5 linked regions of the Homo sapiens genome follow. The protein of the gene in region 3 purifies or fractionates together with the protein of the main gene of each other region. This does not show direct contact. Each region holds a gene or a part of one and is shown on either strand. Other genes may lie near its edges.

What was found.
Region 1: the proteins of GRK4 (region 3) and TCERG1 purify together in Homo sapiens (affinity purification with mass spectrometry; one large-scale study listed by BioGRID and IntAct). This does not show direct contact.
Region 2: the proteins of GRK4 (region 3) and SON purify together in Homo sapiens (affinity purification with mass spectrometry; one large-scale study listed by BioGRID and IntAct). This does not show direct contact.
Region 4: the proteins of GRK4 (region 3) and TUBGCP3 purify together in Homo sapiens (affinity purification with mass spectrometry; one large-scale study listed by BioGRID and IntAct). This does not show direct contact.
Region 5: the proteins of GRK4 (region 3) and CKAP5 purify together in Homo sapiens (affinity purification with mass spectrometry; one large-scale study listed by BioGRID and IntAct). This does not show direct contact.

The regions. Positions count from the first base shown.
Region 1 is NC_000005.10:146,478,326-146,481,847, reverse strand, and holds part of TCERG1 (transcription elongation regulator 1), read right to left. Parts: intron 3,356-3,522; coding exon 3,195-3,355; intron 1,994-3,194; coding exon 1,937-1,993; intron 1,821-1,936; coding exon 1,754-1,820; exon of another isoform or gene 699-1,753; coding exon 648-698; exon of another isoform or gene 402-647; coding exon of another isoform or gene 278-401; exon of another isoform or gene 1-277. UniProt on the Homo sapiens protein: Transcription factor that binds RNA polymerase II and inhibits the elongation of transcripts from target promoters. Regulates transcription elongation in a TATA box-dependent manner.
Region 2 is NC_000021.9:33,570,530-33,574,051, reverse strand, and holds part of SON (protein SON), read right to left. Parts: intron 1,502-3,522; exon of another isoform or gene 1,422-1,501; intron 745-1,421; coding exon 597-744; intron 1-596. UniProt on the Homo sapiens protein: RNA-binding protein that acts as a mRNA splicing cofactor by promoting efficient splicing of transcripts that possess weak splice sites.
Region 3 is NC_000004.12:3,036,551-3,038,917, forward strand, and holds part of GRK4 (G protein-coupled receptor kinase 4), read left to right. Parts: intron 1-823; coding exon 824-961; intron 962-1,825; coding exon 1,826-1,963; intron 1,964-2,073; coding exon of another isoform or gene 2,074-2,109; exon of another isoform or gene 2,110-2,367. UniProt on the Homo sapiens protein: Specifically phosphorylates the activated forms of G protein-coupled receptors. GRK4-alpha can phosphorylate rhodopsin and its activity is inhibited by calmodulin; the other three isoforms do not phosphorylate rhodopsin and do not interact with calmodulin.
Region 4 is NC_000013.11:112,578,142-112,581,663, forward strand, and holds part of TUBGCP3 (gamma-tubulin complex component 3), read right to left. Parts: intron 1-3,522. UniProt on the Homo sapiens protein: Component of the gamma-tubulin ring complex (gTuRC) which mediates microtubule nucleation.
Region 5 is NC_000011.10:46,797,778-46,801,299, forward strand, and holds part of CKAP5 (cytoskeleton-associated protein 5), read right to left. Parts: coding exon 3,423-3,522; intron 396-3,422; coding exon 306-395; intron 193-305; coding exon 28-192; intron 1-27. UniProt on the Homo sapiens protein: Binds to the plus end of microtubules and regulates microtubule dynamics and microtubule organization. Acts as a processive microtubule polymerase. Promotes cytoplasmic microtubule nucleation and elongation. Plays a major role in organizing spindle poles.

The sequences.
Region 1 (3,522 bases), on a different chromosome or scaffold from region 3:
TGTGTGGTACTCAAGTGAAATTGTAAACATGGAATCACGGCACCTCTCAAATATATGCACTATGAAAAAGGCCCATTCACGTAAATAATCCAAAAAAGTATGTAATTCAATAATATCTGGGTGTATTTTAGCAGATCTTCCTTCTTAAATATGATCTGCTAAGTATATTTTAAAAATTGGCTCTTATTCCCTATACAAACTTAAGGGAATTAGGAAAACAGAACATGTGGAAATTCAAAAGCATGCTATACAGGAAACTGTAGGTAGCCCCAGAGATTTAAATGGAACTAAGGCTAACCCACAAATGCAAGTGAGAGGTACTTAGCAACTTAGGCAATGAATCAAAAGAAATAGAAGACATAGTCCGTGACCTGCAGGAACTTAGCGAGATAGTCTGTGACCTAAGATATGCACAAAACAAACAGGTAAAAGCAATTTGCCAAACAATATACCCTCTTATAATAATAATTTTAAAACTATTTAAATAGTTAGAGTTAAAAGACATCCAAGAAGTAACTAATAAAAACAAATAACCTTTATAGAACTATACTAAATGAAAATGTCACAATACAAACTATCACTATCTATCTCAATAAAGGAAATAAAAGAAAAACTAAGCCAGGAAAAACAGGCTTTTAGCTTTGTACCTAAATAGAGAAGCTCGGGCAATCCACATAAAGGACTTCTTTGACATTCTCCTGATAAAAGCAGTTAAAAACCTTACAGAGTTGTCTATAAGAACAAACAATTAAAAACAACCTAAAAGTTTAACATCGTAGGAACATCCAAAATTATGGTACATAAACAGAATGAATACAGTCATTTATAATAATTAACAAAACAAATGTCTTATTCTAGGTTTTTTTTTTTTAAAAAAAAAGCACAAAATCAGTTAATCACAACTAATAAAAATTACATTTGGTCAAGAACTAAAAAGTCAATTGCAAAAATGAGAATAGCTATGTTACGCTGATAAATTATGAGTGATTCTTTCATATCTTTTATGTTGTTGCCAATAAAGAAATTTTTTTTAAAAGAACTACCCTTTATAGGGGTTGTCCTACTGATTTCTTTGCCATAATTTGGCTGCATTCAATCTGTCCTTTTCAGATAAGGACTACAATTAACCAGTTCCTGTTAATGTCTTCAAACTTTCCTTTTTGCTGCTAAATAATGGTCCCATTCCCCATACATGCATACCCTCTACCCCATCCTTCCCCCCGCCATAACATTTACATTTTACCCAACTCTAGAGCACTGGCCAAGCTAATGCCTCTACTTCTTAGCAGTCTCTTTCTCGCAGAGCACTTCCTAAGCTTATGGGTTCTCTCCTCACCAAGGAGTTAATGACCAGACTCAAGGACTAGGTAAGTCGTAAGATAACCATATAAAGAGGGAGAAGTCTGTGTCTGTTTTTATGAGATCTCTGGAATGGTATCCATTGGGGTCTAAATGAGGGAGGAAACTAACTTTTCATAAAATTGAGACCTAATAAATTTCCAAAAAGAATTAATTCCAAAACTATCATTTGGAGTCATAATACATATATGAATACCCAAATCTTCTACAAATCTAGCAAAAGAAGGGACACATTTTCTACAATGAAAAACAAAGCTATTTATTATCAGGCCTAAGAGAGCAATCATGCCTCCTAACAACATTCACATTACCTGTCCCTTCCAATCACAAATTATTACCAAATCGACTTTTAAAAGATATAATCTACCTCAATCAAATCGTATGTATTACTTACTTCCGTTTTTTTGCTTTAACAGGCTCATCTTCATTAATTTCTTCCATTAATTCTTGTTCCTCTTTAACTATAAGACAAAATTTAATTAAAATATTTAGGAATGAATCCTTCTGCTAATCACTACCAGAACACTTGCTTTAATAGTATTAAAAAGAAGCTGCAATTTATGGTTAGTTCACTCACTTGCACTCATAGAGAATTGCCACTTTTGGATCGACAGCATTGTCGGAGTTGGGTGCCCTGGCAAAAACATTTCAAATATTGTTACAAAGTCATTTGCATATATTTCACAAACTTTTCTTTTTAAAAATTACTGTTTACATAATATATTCACCTCTTAATATTCATCCCTTTATAAAACATTAAACAAAGCATAATTCTACACTTCCTCTATTTATCCTCCCTTTACATTAAATTTAATTCATTTTGAAATGTTTCTTGCCCAAACCTTAAATTTACAAATATATAAAATAAAGCTTTCTTGATTCAGGATTTACAGTACCTTTTAACAATGCACGTTAATGTATTTATCAAATGAATGAATCAAATATTTAAAAACAAATTCACGAAAAACAAAAGAAAATCACATATTGTTTCAACATCATTCAATACCATAGTTATAAAGTATTATTATCATACCTATAAAACAAGTATTGCTGAAGGTGAGCCTAGTACCTTCAGCACTAGATAGGCAAAGCGGCACTGACTCAGAAATTACTTATAATTCAGCATATATATAATGCATGAAAATGTCTCAATGACTATAAATGATACACACTAGGATTTATTTCATTAGAAGCATTAAATAATTCATTTATCTTGCTTCTATACCACTTGCGGGCCACAGTTCTATAAAAACACAATCATATCAACACAAGGGCAAATTACCAATAAGAAATACACAACAAAAATTACGTACAAATATCTGTACTCAATATATTAGTATGCCCTCTGAATATGAGATAGATTAAAAGATAATCTCTTAGTAAGGTTTAGGTGTCTAGTCTCAGGAATATAAGGAGCTTACCATCTAATTCAAAAGATTGAGATTTTGTATTTTTAAAAAATTTGTAATGTATTATTTCAAGAAATATATTACTAGTCACAAAAGGTGCTAAAAGGCCCACCGAGGAGCATTTTAGTAGTATTGATAAGCACTAAGCAAGCAGCAACACTACCAACCATATCTTGGACTAACTGAAAATCTTGAGTAGGACAATAAATTAAAGACACACATATTTTACAAAGCACAATCTTATCCAAATTCTCTCCATATTTTTAATCTCTATTATTTCATTCAAACTAGGATAGCAGTCTATTTTTTTCGAATGCTTCTTATATTCTTTGAAAAATAAAGGGTTTCTAAATGCCTTCCACATTTTCTATCAAAATATGAAAAGAATGTTAAAATCAGTGGATAAATTCCTAATTTAAAACTTACTTAGTTTCTTCAATTCCTCCATTCCTTTTTTATGAGGGGGCTCCTGAATAATTTTGTCAACATCTGCCCTGCCAATCAGATCATCAGGTCGGTCCCACATAGAAAGACGAGTGGTGGGATTATAAAAGAAGACCCGCTCATCACCAGTCCAAACGACACACCTAAGAATTGATGCAAAATATCATTCTCTTATGTTACAGAACATATTTTACAGCTAGGACTTCTTTCAGCCTGTTACAAGTAGGGAGATGAGGGTACTGAAGAACGACATGTTCTTATTACCAATAGTTATTTACAGAGAACCAAACATGGTTTTTACAAGATAACT
Region 2 (3,522 bases), on a different chromosome or scaffold from region 3:
CAGGTATCTGAAGGTAAAAGGAAAATACAGTCAATGCTAACAGTTCCAAGATGCCTTAACACAAGGCAACAGGAAGAAGTAACATTATTGTCAGCAGCTGGTCTACTATACTCTAACCCAACTTAACTACTGAGCTTGGAAGAAAAAAGCAAACAGGGTTTATGAAATCTAGACTAAACCAGTATTGTAATAGGAAATAATGAAGATGTGCTAAAATATCTAACAAAAAATAAACTAAACTCTAGAAAAAAGGATGGTTCCTTGTCAAGAGAAAATAAAATGGAAATCCTGTTTTCTAAACATGAAATCCAGTTGAATTTGGAGGTGTAATAATAAAATTAGATATATACACATTTCCATATTTAGCAACTAGCATAACAAAAGGTGCCTTTTAAAAGTTCAAACTGGTGTCTCTATCCATAGTTATATAAAAATAAGCTGCTCTGTGAACCCCAAAAGGGGTTAATGTTTTTTCTGACAAATACCTGTATATATACAAGAAGTGCCTTCAGTTCAGTATCACTGGGTTCAAAAGGATATATTAAAGGTAATGTTAAAGGAGACGTTAATAAACATTCCAAAAAAGAACTTGTTACCTTTTCGGTCTGTCTTAAAATCAACTAGGATGGGTTCCTTATTGCCTTCTTTGTTTTTTCCTAATCCTTCTCCTTCTCTCCAGCCCATTTTTCTCATCAAAACGGCTCCCATTCCTCCAGTTACCGGGGCTGCTCTTAAGAACTGATCCTATCCAAAGAAAGAAAGGTAAAATGTCCCCATTTTACAGTTAGAACTTGGTGACAGATTCATTGTTTACTTTCTAAAAAGAGGAATCTTACTTTACTTCTAGATCTGTTATAGCAATTAAATGTAAATTCCTCTATACTTTATACATACTGTAGTGTGTATGTTCTGATTATTTGCACATTAACGTAATAGTATTTTGGAAGTCAAATAAGACAAGTAAATGGCAGTTTTGAAACAGTAGCCCTCGTGCCCCCCTCAAAAAAAAAAAATTAGAACACTCCTGTTTTCGTCCACTATTTAGGTTCACTGGTATCTCTTCTTAGCTTGCAAAATAAAAAGAAGGCAATGTTAAAACAATCAATGATATTAATTGTCCCAGGTGTACCTAGTTTATGAATAAAGCCCAGAAATCACTTAGAAATAGTTTAGACACTGAAGAAGCATACTGTTGTCATCCAAAGTTTTCTTCCCCATTCTACTATAAAGCAAGTATAAATATTTTACTTAGAAAATCCCTAAAGCAGAAAAAAAAAAAAAAACTCTTGAAATTTACACAGTAACAAATAGAAAACAATCACATAAAATATCCTGTAAGTATGCCAAAATGAATTTGAATTCTTTTAAAACCTAGCTTGATGTTAAAAGACTTTTAAAAAACTCCTTAAATGTTTACATACCTAGGCCTCGGTAGCAGCAGTGTTGTGAATAGTACGGCTGGCACTGACCGGGGCAAGAAGACAGCTACAAGGATTTGGCCCTGAAACAAGTTTCCATACAGAGGGGTGAAAGTTCACAGGTTATTCTGTGAACAGTCATCTCTCTTGTATCCAACCCACTGAACCATAATTTCCATCAAAGCAGCAAACCACTTAATGTCCTAAGATGCACAAGTATATATACATTAGCATGGTCAACAGTTATTTTTACAGGTTAAGAAATATTCAATGCCTCTTATTAAAGGGCATCCATGTACATATAGCAAACAGTATTAAGTTGTACTGTTGATCTTTATGGTCATTTTTTAAAAATTTGAAACATATCTCCAAATCATGCTTTATTTTCCCCTTGTTACTAAATTTTAGGTTTTTATGTTCTCTTACCAAATATATATATATATATATATATAAATATATAATATAGCAAAAGTCATTAACTTATCAACAGAGAGAGTAAAAAAACTTCAGTAGCTCAGGAAATAGTATGCACATCTCCTATATTGATAAGTTAATACTGAATGTAAAAAAGAAATGTTTGTATGCAGTAGTAAAACTGTATCTATCATCTTTTGTTTCCCAGCTTTGTAATTAAATGCTGGGGAGAAAACATGCCAATGACGTGTGACTAGACATTAAGTTCATCAAGGTGCTCTGATGGAAGGAGGCAGCTGTGGAGGTAAAAACATACCCCTGGTTCAGTTCCTTATTTGGTGCAGGCCATGCAGTGTAGATGTATAAAGAGAAAGCTGATGCTTGGATATTAACTGCCTTGATGCTACACACCTAGAATGTCTTTTACTTACTTCCAGGTTCATCCGTCCCTCTTTTCCAGGGAACACGCCTAAAAAAAAGGGCAACTGTGCAGAGTACAATATAAATCCCCAAATAACCCAGGTTTCCAATTTTGTTTCCATTCCCTAGTATCATCATCTGTTTCTTTACCCCAGTGTGAAAAAGCTGATTAATTTAATGAGACCACAATAACAAACTGTATTTATCAGGTCACATCCAAATCATTCCATTCTAGAAATAAAATTTCTTTTAAACGAACTACTTTAAATGTTTTACTGATTAATGAGACTACTGATAAAACTTTGCTTTTTTTGTAATCTAAAAATACACTGCAACAAACTAAAAAGAACACGGAGGATGTTGGTATTCCATGTGTTTTTTAACACATAAGGCAGATGCTGGACTATACTAAAGAAGAGCCAAAATGATCGTTTGACAGGTTTTCTAAACACAACTAAACATTTAATGAGTAGACAATATTTGTGATATTTAACATGGATCATACATCCTAAATTTTCAGCTGCCTAATGACTTCTACATGTTGTGGCCCATTTTTAATTTTCAAAAGTTTCTTTTTTAGTTGATACTAGCATCAAATATTCTTCAGTAATTCTATACAAATGAATCTTTTCCTTTAAGTGCTACTTTTATCTATAATTTAAAATTTGGTCTGAACATATCTTTATCTCATAATTTATCAAAATAATTTGCTTCCCAAAGTATATCTTACATAAAATATAAAGTTGAAGCCTTTTTTCAAGGTGCTACTAAACATTTTAAAGTTATTAAAGTCTGTTAACTGCCTACAAGACTGCAAATACCAGAAGAAATTATTTTAGGGGAAAACCAATTGAGTCAGTAAAAGATTCACTTTTTAAAAGTTATTTAAGTTATTAACACATTTATAAGTATACAAACATTATGGATCAGCACATCATTAGATAAAGACCAAAATTTTGTAATGGAAGCACATTCAGAAGTTTCTACCTAGCAGTGTACATGACTCTGTATTATGTGCCTATTTTAACACCCATAAGCTTTATTTCTAACTTCCTGAAATACTGGCTGAGTACTTAGCTTCAAGACTAAATAGTATTAAAGAATTAAAACTAAAGAAATAGATGTACATTTATAGTTCTTCCAAAGATGAAAGACATTTTTTCAAATATTATATAAATCACTTTCATAGTAACTATAATATAGAAGTCCAAGATTAATCCAATCTTTAAAATATTTTGCTATATACATTTTCACCCTTTATTCTAACACC
Region 3 (2,367 bases):
TCCGTGCTTTTTGTTCCTTTGCCCTGAAAGTGCAAGGAACTGTACTGGCGGCAGGTGGAGACCCGGACCTTGGCACTCCCTCCTGCCTGCCTGACCCTCTGCCTCTGAGGACAGCAGTGCCGGGATAGGAGCTGCAGACCTGGGTTCCTGTCCCAGAGGAGGGACCTGCTGATTCAGGGAGCTGAGCGGAGGGATGAGGTCCCTTGCAGCCTTGGAGACCACTCAGTGGACCTGCAGGAGGATGGGAAGTGGGAGCTGCTGCTGTTCCTCAGGTTTTCTCCGGGTGCTTTGCCAGGAGTGCACCAAGAATTGGAGGCAGGGGCGAGAATTGTCACTAAGGGATCCCACCGCTGGTGGCCTCTGTCCCTGTTCACACTTCTCCGGTTCTGTGCTGCATCTTCCAATACGTGCAGTCCACCCTGCCCTGCATCCCTGACCTCTGTTTGCAATCCATTTTGCACTACGGAAAGGAGAAGGGCATGGCCTCAGGAGGGGTGTGTGTGTGTGTGTGTGTGTGTGTATGTGTGTGTGTATGTGTGTGTGTGTGTGTGTGAGAAAGAGGGAGAGAGCCAGGGCATGCAAGGGACCTGGCACAGACAGTACCACAAAATTGGTGACACTAAAAGCTGGCGAACCACCTCTTCAGAGGACACATTCTGTGATTTAGAAAATGCCTCAAGTGAGAGGGGCCTGGCAAAAGAATGGAGACAGGGAGAGTGGCGGTGTTTATGCGTCAGTTTGCTGGGCGTTTCATTCTTGGGAACTGAGGGAGCTGAGAATTGCTGTAGTCATCTCAGAGGCTGCCCCTGTTCTTGCTACACAGCCTCATGCCGTTTACTGTAAGGACGTCCTGGATATCGAGCAGTTCTCGGTGGTGAAAGGGATCTACCTGGACACCGCAGATGAAGACTTCTATGCTCGGTTTGCTACCGGGTGTGTCTCCATCCCCTGGCAGAATGAGGTACTGCCCTTCCAGCACAGCCGCTTTACGTTAGTTCCAACAGTGACCCAGGGAAAAGGGTGTGTGTGTGTCCGTGTGTGTGTGTGTGTCTGTGTGTATTTGGGAGATAAAATTATATAAGACGGCTGGGCGCAGTGGCTCACGCCTGTAATCCCAGCACTTTGGGAGGCTGAGGCAGGCAGATCATGAGGTCAGGAGTTCGAGACCAGCCTGGCCAACATAGTGAAACCCTGTCTCTACTAAAAGTACAAAAATTAGCCAGGCATGGTGGCAGGCACCTGTAGTCCCAGCTAGTAGGGATGCTGAGGCAGGAGAATCGCTTGAACCTGGGAGGCAGAAGTTGCAGTGAGCTGAGATTGCGCCACTGTACTCCACCTTGGGCGACAGAACGAGACTTCGTCTCACCCAAAAAAAAAAAAAAAAAGATTGTATAAGACTTTTGACCACAGGACTAGACCATGGGCAAGCCAAGGACCATATCAGCAGCTGTCCAGAAGCACAGCGGCTGTCCCTGGTCCCAATGACAGGAAGTGGACAGGAGGTAGCTATTTTGGGTCTGATGGGAGCTTGCCTGCCACCCCGAGCCCCACTCCCTAAGCAGGGCTGGCTGGCAGCCAGGGTTCCCATGGTAGTTCCCTGCTTTGGGAGTACACTCAGAGACAAGGGGAGAGGAGACCACATTACTTATTCCAAGAAGAGGTCAGGAAGCAGGGAAGGAGGAACCCAGAAAAGGGGCCCCACAGTGGGTGCAGGAGCTCTGAGGTGCCCCGCACGGGGCTGGGCAGGAGCTGCTGGCACTGGGAGACACCCACTGACCTGGCAGTTTCTCTGCGGCTTCTCTGTCCTGTTATTCTGTGCATGCAGATGATCGAATCTGGGTGTTTCAAAGACATCAACAAAAGTGAAAGTGAGGAAGCTTTGCCATTAGATCTAGACAAGAACATACATACCCCGGTTTCCAGACCAAACAGAGGCTTCTTCTATAGACTCTTCAGAAGAGGGGTAAAAAGACTTAAAAACTAATATATGTGTGTGTATGTGAAAAAAAAAAAAACATACTGACTGCCAAGGTGAAAACCTGGTACTTTTTCTGTTTGCGATGGCTCCTACAGGCAGTTTTATACAGTCTGAGAGCCACATGGTGCTAGGTGGAGGCCAGCCAGAACAATGAGAACACCCTCGCAGTGAGGTTTGTTGCTGGGATGAAGACTGTTCTGATCCAAAACAGGACTACCTTCCAGCATTTACAAACAGGTTCCCGTGTCGCTGACAAAATAGTTTACACTGGGCTCAGAAATCGGCATCCTGTGGAACCTTCGTCAGATGGCACTCACAGTGCATCTCTCCCTGCTCTGGCTCTTAGACTCACCTCCTTCGCCCGCTGCACGGGGAAAGTGGATTCCTTT
Region 4 (3,522 bases), on a different chromosome or scaffold from region 3:
AGCCCAGGGCATAAAACCCCTCGTGGCTTGGATGGAATCCAGGACTCGTGGCTCTGGAATGTGTCTAGACTTGCTGGCTCCTTGCTCCTTGCTCTCCCAGGATCGATTGTATCTTGAGTTAAAAGAACCTGCTCTCGGCCGGGCGCGGTGGCTCACGCCTGTAATCCCAGCACTTTGGGAGGCCGAGGCGGGCGGATCACGAGGTCAGGAGATCGAGACCATCCTGGCTAACACGGTGAAACCCCGTCTCTACTAAAAATACAAAAAATTAGCCGGGCGTGGTGGTGGGCGCCTGTAATCCCAGCTACTCGGGAGGCTGAGGCAGGAGAATGGCATGAACCCAAGAGGCGGAGCTTGCAGTGAGCCGGGATAGCGCCACTGCAGTCCAGCTTGGGCGAAAGAGTGAGACTCCGTCTCAAAAAAAAAAAAAAAAAAAAAAAAAAAAGAACCTGCTCTCCATTATCTCAAGTAGCAGAGCAGATGCTAAATCATCACACCTGTAAATCATGTGCTTAATGCAACGCGACCTTTCGACCCCCACATTCTCACCACCTGTTTCTTTGTTTGATCACCAATAAATAGTCTGGGCTTCCAGAGCTCAGGGCCTTCACAGCCTCCATACTTAGCGATGGCCCCCTGGACCCACTTTCGCTCTCAAACTGTCTTTTCTCATTCCTTCGACTCCACCAGACTTCGTCACCCCCACGACCTGGTGTTGGGTCTGATCACCCCAGCAAAAATTAAATAGAAGAGTAAAACATAAGCCCCTCTTAGAAATAAAACAAAACAAAGAAATCTTTGCAACTTTGAGTTTGGCAGAGTTCCTACATGACACCAAAATGATGACCCATTTTTTTAGAAATTCATACATTGGCCTTCATCAAGATTAAAAACTTTTGCTCTGCAAAAGACACTGTTAAGAGAATGAAAATACTGAGAAAAAATATGTGCAAAACACAAAGACATAAGCAAAAGTTTTGAACAGATAATTCACCAAGAAGACATATGAATGGCAAACACACACACACACACAAAGATGTTCAACATCACTAGGAAAATTAAAATTAAAACCACACTGAGATATCACAACACACTTGCTAGAATAGCTAAGATTAAAAACCACTAACACTGCTGAGTGCAGGTGGGGCCACGGCATCCCTGGAGCTCTCCCACACTGCTGAGTGACAGTGGGGCCACGGCATCCCTGGAGCTCTCCCACACTGCTGAATGCCCGCGGGGCCACGGCATCCCTGGGGCTCTCGCACACTGCTGAGTGCCAGCGGGGCCACGGCATCCCTGCAGCTCTCCCACACTGCTGAGTGCCCGCGGGGCCACGGCATCCCCGGAGCTCTCGCACACTGCTGAGTGTCAGGGGGCCACGGCATCCCTGGAGCTCTCCCACACTGCTGAGTGCCGGGGGGCCACGGCATCCCTGGAGCTCTCCCACACTGCTGTGTGCGGGTGGAGCCATGGCATCCCTGGAGCTCTCCCACACTGCTGAGTGGGGGTGGAGCCATGGCATCCCTGGAGCTCTCCCACACTGCTGTGTGCGGGTGGAGCCATGGCATCCCTGGAGCTCTCCCACACTGCTGGTGCAGCGGCAAAGCAGCCACAGCCATACTGGAAAAGAGTCTGGCAACTTCTGAAAACAATGAGCATGCACCTGCCCTGAGGCCCAACAACCCCACTTGCAGGTGTTTATTCTAGAAAACTAACTTAAGTTCACATAAAAAACCTGTCCATGAATGTTCATAGCAGCATTATCCATAACTGCCAAAAACGGAAGCACTCCAAATGTCCCTCAGTGGTAAAATGGATAAACTGGTTCATCATACAATGGAACACTACTCTGCAATGAAAAGGTGAACTATTGATATGGCACTGTAAATGCATCTCAAACGCGTTATACTAAGTGAAAGAAACAAGTCTCAAAACTTTTGACTGAACACTGTATGACTGCATTTACGTGAAATTCTAGAAGCGGAGACATACACAGACACAGGATGGTGGCGGCCAGCACAAAGGCAAAATGGTAGCACAGAGGAAATCACTGTGAACCTAAACACTGAGAATTTTTTTAAATGGGCTAAATAGCAGAATGGAGATACTAAAGGACAATTTAAATGCAAGCTAGAAAATCAAACACAACAAAAGAACAGTTAGAAATTATGAAGAAAAAATAGTAAAATTTTTCTATCATTAAAAAAAAGTCAGCCCTGCGTGGTGGCTCACACCTGTAATTGCAACACTTTCAGGGGCTGAGGTGGATCACTTGAGCCCAGGAGTTTGCGACCAGCCTGGACAATACAGCAAGATCCTTCTCAAAAAAAAAATTCTAAGTCTGTCACTAGCTTTGAAAAAAATAATAAATTTTAAAAAAAGGAAAAGTCCTCAGATTGAAGGATCATCAAGTGTTAATCCAGGTAAATTTTTAAGTTCCACACCTAGACACATTATTGCAAAATTTCAGAACATGCAGGATTTTTTAAAATTCTAAAAGCTACCAGACACATCTTCAAAGGAGTAAGAAATGGATTAACATCAGACTTCTCATCAATAATGAAAGAATACCTTCAAAGTGGGCAGAGGAAAAACACTTCAGACCAGAATATCTATATCTGACTGATGATCCAAGAGTTCAGGAATAGAAGCGTAAGAGAAATAAAGACATTTTCAGACTATTAAGTAATTATTTAGATCAGCAAATCCTGTTGATTCTATTTCTAAAAGCATATCCCAAATATGATCACTCCACAGCTACCATCCCATTACAGGAAGTCTCCTGAGGAGCTGCTCACTTGCTTCCACCTTTGCCCCCTTAGAGTGAATTATCCACCCAGCAGTCAAAGTGATCCTCTTAAAATATAAATATTATCATCACTCTGCTCACACACCCATCACACTCACAACAGAACCCAACCTCCTGGCCCCAGCCCAGGGAGCCGGCCCCTTGCTCCCCACATTGCACTCCTGCTATTCCTGGAACACACCAAGCTCACCTCCAGCTCGGCACCCAGCTCTCTCTTCTCCACATCCTCTAAGGACTCACACCCCCCCATCTTTCTGTCCCTATTCTAGCTAAAGCAGACACAAGCGCACTGTGTCAGCAAGGATCCAGTGAATGCCTGCATAGTGGGGAAAGGAACAAAATGAAATCTAAAATGTTTTGTGGGGTCACAGGGTCGGGGTAGTTTTTTTCTCCTTATATTTTTCCACTTTCTGAATTTTTACACTGCGTATATATTAATTTTACAAATATTAAAAGTATCATTGAAAAGTTTCCTTTAAAAGTTGTGTCACTATTTAAGAATTTTTTTTTTCCCAGACAAGGTCTCACTCTGTCGCCCAGGCTGGAGTGCAGTGGTAAGATCTCGGCTCCCTGCAACCTCTGCCTCCTGGGCTCAAGTGATTCCCCCACCTCAGCCTCCCAAGTAGCTGGGACTACAGGTATGTGTCACCACATCCAGCTAATTTTTATATTTTCTGTACAGACAGGGTCTTACCATGTTGCCCAGGCTGGTC
Region 5 (3,522 bases), on a different chromosome or scaffold from region 3:
TCCCCCAACTTCAAAGAGAGTCTGTACCTTAAGTAGTGCAGCACAAAAGGGCTTTAGCAAGCTCTTTGGCAGGGTAGAAGCAGTGCAGTGGCGGAAACTTCTTGCAATAAAAAGAGATGTCTGCTGCTTGATGGTTGGATTTTTATTATCCATTACTGCTAAAACATCCTCACTGATGTTCTGTAGTGTGGTCTTTAGAAAGAAAATGTGGTTAATGAGCTTTTTTCAATTGTAAAGAACAATCAAAATATTATATTTACAAACTTTACTTCAGATAAAACTACAAACTCATGCTGTCAACTTACAGTAAGGAAGATTGCATCAATTGCCTCCTGCAGGGCTTGTACCACTTGAGGTTTCTTCTCTTTGAATTTCTCCAAGATGGTTGGCACAACCTGTAAAAGTGAATGGCTAGCACATTATTCAGCAACAAAGAGGAATGATATATTGATATATCCTAGAACATGGCTGAACCTTAAAAATAGTATGCTAAGTTAAAAAAAAAGCCAGTCACAGGCTGGGCACAGTGACTCATGCCTGTAATCCCAGCACTTTGGGAGGCTGAGGCAGGTGGGTTGCTTGAGGCAAGGAGTTCAAGACCAGCCTGGGCAACAGAGTGAGATCTTGTCTCTACTAAAACAAACAAAAAAAAATTAGCCAGGTGTGGTGGTATGTGCCTATGATCCCAGCTACTTGGGAGGCTGAGGTGGGAGGATTACTTGAACCCAGGAGGTCAAAGCTGCAGTGAGCTACGACTGCATCACTGTATTGTAGCCTGGGCAACACAGCAAGACCCTGTCTTCCAAAAAAAAAAAAAAAGCAGTCACAAAGACCATGTATTGTATGACTCCATTTACATGAAATGTTAAATCCAGAGACAAAAAAGTAGATTAGTGGTTGCTAGAGTCAAGGGCAGGGAGCAGCATGGGGAGAGACTGTTAATGGGCAAGGGGTTTCTTTTTGGGGTGATGAAGATGTTCTGGAATTAGATAGTGCTGATGGTTATGTAACATTGTGAATATTCTAAAATCACTTTAAGAGGGTAAATTTTATAGTATGCAAGTTTTATCTCAATAAAACTTACTTTCTAAAAAACCACCTTGTCTCCACCAAAACAAACCAATAAAGCAAACATTTAAGTGGAATAAAAAGTCATTTCCTTTCATGAAGGACATCGTATCTTATGCCGGAACAATGAAGAATTCTCATTCTCTCCCACTATGGCAGTGCTTCTCAACCTATTTGCCGCCTCTGCTCTGTCACCCACGTGGGAGTGCAGTGGGATGAACATGGCTCACTGAAGCCTCGGCCTCCTGGGCTCAAGTAATCCTCTCATCTCAGCCTCCCGAGTAGGTAGGCCTCAGGTATATGTCACCACACCTGCTATTTTTTTTTTTAATTCTTAATTTCTTGACCATTTCCCTGTAAATATAATTTTTTATTTTATTTTTTGTCGAGACGGGGGTTTCTCCATGTTGCCCAGGCTGGGGAAGAAAATTTCTAAGGTCCAAAGGACACAGCAAAGCTCAATGGCATCCAAAAACAAGAAATAATTGTTTTCAAGATTTCACAGAAGTGGTTATAGACTACTTGGTATAGTTCAAGGACTATGGTTCCCATGGAAAAATACAAGACTTTTTAATACTAGTTATAAACTTGAAAATCAAGATATTTTAATGTCTATAAAGCTAACATTCACTTTTATAAATATTGCCAAAAAGTTTGTAAACATTTAAAGAAAATAAAGCCAAGTCAGTAACATGCTTGATACTAAACACCGCATATATTACAGTATTAAGGTGGGGGAGACCCCAAACTACAGAGCAATAGAGACATTCTTTAACCAGGACAACAAACTGAAACAAAGCCAGAATCAGAACTCAAACTGGAAAGCCAGTTAATTATCCAACCATAATTTGGTAAATTAAAATGAATTTTAGGCCGGGTGTGGTGGCTCAAGCCTGTAATCCCAGCACTTTGGGAGGCTGAGGCAGGCAGATAGCTTGAGCTCAGGATTTCGAGACCAGCCTGGGCAAGGTGGCAAAACCCCATCTCTACCAAAAATACAAAAAGTACTCAAGCATGGTGTGGGGTGTGCCTGAAGTCCCAGCTACTCAGGAGACTGAGGTGGGAGGATCACCTGCGCCTAGGAGGTTAAGGCTGCAGTGAACTGAGATGGTGCCACTGCACTCCAGCCTGGGTGACAAAGTGAGACCCTGTCTCAAAAAAAAAAAACTAAAATTATTCTCTGAACTGATATTTAAGTGGTGTAGGAAAAAATTGTTTTTTATCTTGAAAAATTATTCCCAATATAAAAGTGTAAAATATCCTAAGTAATATAAAATTGATCAAAATGGCATATACACATCGATATTATATAATATTGATTGCTATAAAAATAGATTTTAATTTTATTTCAATTTATGATGTATATGTCTAAGGGTTTTACAGACCCTTATTTTTATTTCCCTAGTAATAAGCCAGTCATGATTTATTTTTATTTGGTAGTGTCTTCTTTTTCTTCAGTTAAGTTCTCTGAGATTATTTTTAATGCTATGAGTAAGCAAGCTCCAAATACCATAGCTCATGTGAGGCTAGGTATTAGCTTCACAATATAAAATGGACACATGACTAGGGACTATTAGGAAACTCCTAAGTCAGTCTAGGGAATCAAATGATGAAGGGGCTAGCAAGCTAAACTCTAAAGATCAATAAGGTCAATTTTTAGGATGCTGAGCCATTCTTAGTAATGCAGACCGGATTTAGAGGCCAAAGGACAGATGCCACAGTTAAAGAAAACATCTTAATTAAAATTATTACCAAATTTGATTGGAAACAAACTTATACAAATAGTAAGTCAACAAATGTCTCCAGTCAGATTTTCTTTGAATAAGTAAAACGGAGATAACCTATATAAAATATATAACATTGTAACCTATATAAAATGTCTCAAATATGTAAGTAAATTATATATTAAAATAGGAAAACAATGTAAAACACATTTTATATATTAACCTCACAGTTTTACATTTATAGTTTTACATTGCCTTTCCGACTCTCATTTTCATTCTGGTCCTGGTCGTTACAAGTTTTGTTTCATCTTGTTATGATGTGTATAATGTTGTAAGAACAAAGCAAGATACTAGTAAGTAAATAAGTAATAAGCAAATAAATAAACTCAACTAAGTACTTTAGGCCTAGTGCCTGACTTTCTACATAAGGCCTATAAATTTTGTTACAACTGACATCTACTGAAATTTCTAAGATATATCTATGCTGAATATTAACAAAACAGAGAGAAATTTACTTTGTACAGTATATACACATCTATGCCAAGGAGTTGTTTTAAAGCAAACAGCAAACTAGGCCTACCATTTTTGATAAATTTTGTTGATCTGTATCTAAAAAGGAGTGTTACTTACATGTCCTGCATATTGTCCAAATTTCTTCCTTAGCCCAACAGCCAGGCCAGTAAGACATTTTGCTGCCAAAGCCACCAACATGACATTGGTGTCCTTTCCA